2 linked regions of the Homo sapiens genome follow. The protein of the gene in region 1 interacts with the protein of each later gene in a biochemical or structural test. Each region holds a gene or a part of one and is shown in the gene's direction. Other genes may lie near its edges.

Region 1 (3,500 bases):
GTGTGATCCTGGCTCGCTGTAACCTCTGCCTCCTGAGTTCAAGCGATCCTTCTGCCTTAATGTCCCAAGTAGCTGGGATTACAAACATACGCCATCATGCCCGGCTAATTTTTGTATTTTTAGTAGAAATAGGGTTTCACCAAGTTGGCCAGGCTGGTCTCAATCTCCTGCTCTCAAGTGATCCACCTGCCTCGGCCTCCCAAAGTGCTAGGATTACAGGCGTGAGTCACCGCGCCTGGCCCATAGTGAAGTTTTTATTTTGTCATTTAGCTATATCTTTGGAAAAATTTGGAAATGTATTTTCATCTCCCTAACTTTCAAATAAAAGTTACTATTAACATTTTGAAGGAATTAGTAGGGATTATTTGGTGATAATGTCTTTTTTTAATATAATTTAGTAACGTTTGAGTCTTTCACATTGAATAATAGACTGGCAGTTGAGCAACATGGTCTTACCGTTGTTTAGATGACTTTGAAATATGCTTTGAGTTAGTAATGTTACAAATTACTAACATTAGAAATGTTGTATAGAAAGTAAGTATACAAATTAACAGTCGCTTTTGATACTCATGTTAACTTTGGAAGACAACAGATAGTATCCTTATTTCCAGTTTTACAAATGAGGGAAAATTTAATAAAATTGAACAGAGAGCAACAGCTCAGTCTAGAAACTAGTTCTCTAACTTCGGTAACTTGTATGCTGTCAGAGATTAAACACTTGGGTATTGAAAGCTTATTTGGTGGTGGTTACTATGGCATGAATTAGTTTGAAGGCATTTTTGCTTTTATCCTGCTAATATCTTCACCCTTCTTCCCTCAGTGGTTACAACTTGCCAAATTATAGTACCTTGATAAGATGTATTTGTGTAGTTCTAGGCGCAGTTATCACATCAGTGTTTTATTTTCAAAAATAAGTTTTGACATGGAAGCATGACACAGATTTCACTAGGAAAAGTCCATTTTCTCTTAATCCCTCATATTTAAAGACTTGTTTACGAAGTGGAAACATTGCATAGAATATAATACACTAACGTTTGGATTTTAATAATACGTTTGACTGATGTTAAGTATTTTTTGTCTAGTAAAAATAGTGACACATGACCTTTTTTCATTGATTTATGCTTTGTGATAATACTATGCAGAAATGTTTGCATTGGATTTCCATTGGTCAATTTAGAAAACACAGGAAACATACTCTGTTTCAAGAGAAGTGGAATAAGATTGAAGGAGTAGCAGTCTTAATGTTTCAACTCTTCATTGTTTTTTTTTTAATTTTAGAAAACAGTGTCTGTGATGTAAGCATCTGTGCATGTAAATTGTTAAATTTGAACACTAGTACCAAGTCATTTGTCTTACGCTTCTCATAATCACATTTTAACTTTTTATATTTTTAGAGAGATGGTTATTATGTATTGTTTATAATTTAATGGTATTTCTATTTTACAATCAGTATTTTGGAATGAGTTCACTTAGATCCTTAGATCCTTAAGACAGTCTTAATTGAACTGTTTTCTAGTTGTGCAGGAAGTATTTAAAATTTTTGGTGTAACATACTTGGGGTTTTGGTCTGTAATTCACAGAAAATTTATATATTCTAATTTGTGTCTATTAAGCATCTGTTACCTTATTCTGTTGTGCAGAATTGTTTGGGGGGTAGTGCATCATTTTGTTATGATGCTGGAAAGAGTGAAGATGGAAATAAGCTGGGCATTTGGGATGCTATACCAGGCACTAGATATAACTCATTGTCAATTTGATAATTACAAAACCAATTTTTGTGGGGTTGTGTGTGTGTGTGTTTTGTTTTTTTTTTTTTTTTTTTTTTTTTTAAGACAGTCTCACTCTGTACCTAGGCTGGAGTGCAGTGGCACGATCTCGATCTCACCTCATTGCAACCTCCACCCCCTGGCAAAATCAGTTATTTGGTTATTTGGGGCTTGCAAATATATTCTATGAACAGTCCTTTTCAGGATTTGTATGATGCTTTATAATTTTCAAAGGGTTTCTATATTGTTTCTCATCTGACTCCACAGTAGCTCTTTGAAATAGGCTGATCAGTATTATTCCTGTTGTACTGATGAAATTATAAAGTATTTAGCCTACTGTTGTTGAAACTGGAAAGGAAGTCTCTTCACATAAAATTTTATCTCTGCCTTCAAATTATACTCCAAGTATAACTAATTCTCACTATTTTATCATTTTAGTTCTGGCTACCACCTTTTCTTAGCTTGAATTCTGCAAGAGCCCCCTAGTGTTCCCGAGTCCATTTTGCTTTGTATGATTGTTTCCCCACACAGTAGCCAGAGTGATCCAGTTAAAATGCCAGTCACCTCACATCTCTCTCAAGCTCACGGCCCTCCAGTGACTCCCTGTTTCTTAGCAAATCTTATAATAGATCCTGTGTAATCTGGTGTCTGGGTATTTTTTCAGCCTCTTCTACTATCTTCCCCTTGTTTGTGCTACTCTCTCCATACTGGCCCTGCAGGCAGAAGTTTGTTCCTGTCTCAGGGGCTCTGCACATTATGTGCCTTTATGTTTCTCCTACTGTGCTCACTCACTTCAGTAATGTGTCTGCTTAAGTGTCACCCTCTCACAGGGCCTTCTCTGCCCTTGCTGAACACTCTGAAACAGTCATTCTCATCATTGTCTTTCCTTGCCCCTGCGTGTTCCTTCCTTGTATGAAGGTGACCTGTTATGATTTACTTATAGTCATTCTGCTATAACATGACATGGGCATTTCTGAAAGTCACGGTGCTGTGCAACATTGCACCAGACCAATTTATGGGGAAAATGGAGTTAGGAGCACAGTAACCAAAAACATTGTCAGTGACACATTTTAAAAAGATAGGAACCTAATAAAAATTGTAACTTAGTTTTACACGTATAAAATGGTTAAAGAATAACACCGCAATAAATGGCACTTTACCTTGACCAAAACCTGACTTCTTGTGAAAGTGGCCACTCATTGGAAGGGTTGCAGTTCATGAATTACTGTAAAGTGATGGATGGAAGATACCTGATACGAGACAAAAACTTGTAACATCAAATGTGGATGGACCTGACTCATAATTCATGATGAACTAAGATAGCTATTAGATGTTTGAGCTGTGTCTGCCTTGTAAATTCCTGTGCAGCTTGATGTAGCTAGTGTTTCTCACAGGTGAAAATACACATAAGTGGGAAATTTGCTGGTTTCTGATAGATCAGTAGCCTTCAAACAAATTTGTCTATTTGGAAACAAATGTTATAGCAGAACTGACTGTATTTTAGTTTTTGTTTGCTTGCCTTTTGTGGAATATAAGCTCCACCAGAAGAGGAAGTGAGAGTTTTAATGTTTTTATCCACCTTGTATTCCTGTTACCTTGAATAGTGCCTGAAACTTTATAGCATTTAACTAAATGGATAGATAAAAAAAATTTGGATTGTTATAATTTAAGGGGAATGAAATTATAGTATTTTGGATTAGCATTCCTCAAACTTGAATGTGTATACTAAGCACC
Region 2 (3,500 bases), on another chromosome or scaffold:
GAGCAGGTGGGGCAGGGGTGCTGGGGCAGGTGAGGCAAGGCTGGGCCCTTGGGCCTTAGCTCCTCCCCTCTACATCCATTGCCTGTCTGTTTTCTCTCCACAGCTTAACTCTGGCTACTATGTATCTGGGAGCTCCTCAGGCTTCCAGGGGGGCCAGATCACACTCAGCATGCAGAAGGTGAGCGGCGTTTTCCTCCCACCCCTTCTCACAACCTCTTCTCTGTTGCACTCTTGAAATTCCCCTCAGGACAAAGGACAAACATCCATCTCTGAGGCCCTTCCTGGTCACTCCTGCTGCTCTTTTTTTCATGCATTCATATACTTGTTGAGTAGATTTTTGAACACTTAGTGCTAGGCACTAGGCATATTGGCGAGAACAAAATAGAGGTCAAAACTTTCATGGACCAGACAAGAAATAAATAAAAGAATATATCTTTAGGTTCTACTTGTGGTAACAGACAAGAAATCAGTAAAATAGCATATCAGTGTGTTATGAGTACCACAAAGATAAAGCACAGAAGAGAGAGCTAAGAGTGAGTTGGAGTCAGTTGGCATCTGGTGGTCACTGTGCCCTTTTTCCCTTTATTAGCACTTTAGGCCTTTCTGGAATGCCTTCCGTGACTCCCCATCAGTTAAGAGCCTTAGTTCCCAGCACCGACCATGCAGTATTGAATTTTCTCCCATTTTTCTGGGAGCCCTTAGGAAAGTACTTGGTTTGGGGTGTCAGAATCGATCATTGCCCTGCACGGGGTGCTTGGGGTGGAGTGTATGCTGGGGATGTAAGGGAGGCCTGCTGCCACGTCTGGCCCTGCCTCCCATGGCCCTGCCTCCCACTCCTTAGTTTGAGATGCTGAATGCAGAGTTAGAGGAAAACCAGGAACTGGCCAACAGCCGTATGGCAGAGCTGGAGAAACTGCAGGCCGAACTTCAGGGGGCTGTGCGGACCAATGAGCGCCTCAAGGTGGGCTGCTGTAGGGGCTGAGAGGTCCTGGGCCTGTAAGGGAGGGACTGAGCCCTGAATCCTGTTGCTGATCCCATTTGGGCATCCCTGCCCCAGGTGGCCCTGCGGAGCCTTCCTGAGGAGGTAGTGCGGGAGACGGGGGAGTACCGCATGCTGCAGGCCCAATTCTCACTGCTCTACAACGAGTCTCTGCAAGTGAAGACCCAGCTAGACGAGGCTCGGGGCCTGCTGCTGGCCACAAAGAACTCCCACCTGCGACACATCGAGCACATGGAGGTATGGCCCTGGAACAGGCGTTAGGGCTGGGCTAAGGGCCAAACCGTTAGTGTTGACGTGTTTGTGCCTTCCGAGGCCCTGTGTGCCAGCCAGGGGTCCCTGGGGAATAGATTCTTCCTAAGATACTGAGTCCTGAGGTGGGACCGAGGGGCTGTGTGGGTCCTTAACACATCAACCCACAGAGCGACGAGCTGGGGCTGCAGAAGAAGCTACGCACAGAGGTCATTCAGCTGGAGGACACGCTGGCCCAGGTACGCAAGGAGTATGAGATGCTGCGCATCGAGTTTGAGCAGAATCTGGCGGCCAACGAGCAGGCGGGTATGTGGTGAGGATAGGGCGGAGGTGGGGCCTTATCTGGGAGTGCTGGGCCCTGGTGTGGGGCTGCTGCTTATCCAGATGCAAGAGGCTAAGGCCTTTTTTTTCACAGAGCCTCGGCTTCCTATGCAAAACAGGGCCTGCACTGCTTGGCTCCCAGGCACAGTGAGGGTCCGCCAGCTGGGGTGGCTGATGGAGCAGGCACATGCAGAGTCTGAGCTGTCAGCCCTGTCCTCATTCTTCTGGTCTGATGACGTCTCTGTCTCTCAGATACTTGTGTTACAAAGATTTATCAAATGCCACCTCTGAGCCAGGCTCTGTTCTAGGGTTTGGGGTTATGCCAGTGAACAAAACAGAATTCCTGCCATGTGGAGCAACATTCTGATAGAAGACAGACTAGAGGAAGACGAACTAGTAGAAGAAAAATGGAAAATGTGTTAGCTCTTGACAGATAGGAAAGTAAAGCAGAAAAGGAAGATAGGAAGTATCAGGAGAAAGGGTGTTGCAATTTTGAATAGGAGGCCAGGGAAATGTACTGGGAAGGTGATATTTAAGAATCTAGAAGAAGTTAACTAACTTTTGTGAATGTTACAGTTACCTTCTCTATTAAAGGGAATTGGATGTATAAAAAAAAAAAAGAAAAAACCTAGGCCAGGTGTGGTGATTCATGTCTGTAATCCCAGCACTTTCGGAGGCCAAGGTGGGAGGATCACTTGAGGCCAGGAATTTGAGACCAGCCAGGGCAACAAAGTGAGACACTGTTTCTATTTAAAAAAAAAACAAAAAACCCCACATATTCTATATTAGCAAAAATCGTATGAATAGGCAGTGTCAAGTTAATTTTGGGTGAGTTTCCTTGAAGTCAGCATTATTTACTTTGATGAGTTCATGCTCCGTTGAGGCCGCAATGTTCCCCTCCTGCACAGTGGGAGTGATGGCATAGCCTCTTACCCCACTGAGGGGTTGGAGTCCTAACCCAGGAACTGGTTCTGACACCTTTACTTGCTGATGCTCCTCCAGGGCCCATCAACCGTGAGATGCGCCACCTGATTAGTAGTCTTCAAAACCACAACCACCAGCTAAAAGGGGACGCCCAGCGATACAAGCGGAAGCTTCGAGAAGTACAAGCTGAGATTGGCAAGGTGAGAAGGGGCCTGCCTGGGAAAAGGTTTGGCTAGACTCCAGTGAACACCATCTGACTTCATCCCTCTTCCTCTCTGCCTTTGCAGCTCCGGGCCCAGGCCAGTGGCTCTGCCCACTCCACCCCCAACCTGGGCCACCCAGAGGATTCTGGCGTCAGTGCCCCAGCCCCAGGGAAAGAGGAGGGTGGGCCAGGCCCTGTCAGTACCCCCGACAACAGAAAGGAGATGGCTCCAGTGCCTGGCACCACCACTACTACCACTTCAGTGAAGAAGGAGGAGCTGGTCCCCTCTGAAGAGGACTTCCAGGGTATAACCCCTGGGGCCCAGGGCCCTTCCTCCCGGGGCCGAGAACCTGAGGCCAGGCCCAAGCGGGAGCTTCGGGAACGGGAAGGTCCCAGCCTAGGACCTCCACCTGTAGCCTCCGCTCTCTCAAGGGCTGATCGGGAGAAGGCCAAGGTGGAAGAAACCAAGCGGAAGGAATCAGAACTCCTCAAGGGTCTCCGAGCAGAGCTCAAGTGAGGCTCTGTTCCTGTCTCCTTCCTGACCCTGCCAGGTGGCCTCCAGTCCCACTCACTAAGACTTCCTCCTGTACCTTCTTGCCAGGAAGGCCCAGGAGAGCCAGAAGGAGATGAAACTGCTGCTGGATATGTACAAGTCAGCGCCCAAGGAGCAGCGGGATAAGGTGCAGCTCATGGCAGCGGAACGCAAGGCTAAGGCCGAGGTGAGGGCAGCTGGGGCTTGTGGGGCATTCAGAAAGGCAGAGCAGAGTCCTAGCTCAGCAGGAAGCAGTGTCAAGAGAGTTTCTT

The links. Proteins that work in one complex are often made in the same cells at the same time.
Region 2: the proteins of WAC (region 1) and RNF40 form a complex in vitro, tested with the Homo sapiens proteins (2 studies listed by BioGRID).

What each region holds. Positions count from the first base shown.
Region 1 is NC_000010.11:28,539,618-28,543,117, forward strand, and holds part of WAC (WW domain-containing adapter protein with coiled-coil), read left to right. Parts: intron 1-3,500.
Region 2 is NC_000016.10:30,765,322-30,768,821, forward strand, and holds part of RNF40 (E3 ubiquitin-protein ligase BRE1B), read left to right. Parts: coding exon 1-6; intron 7-103; coding exon 104-178; intron 179-841; coding exon 842-961; intron 962-1,057; coding exon 1,058-1,237; intron 1,238-1,419; coding exon 1,420-1,555; intron 1,556-2,572; coding exon 2,573-2,694; intron 2,695-2,781; coding exon 2,782-3,209; intron 3,210-3,297; coding exon 3,298-3,415; intron 3,416-3,500.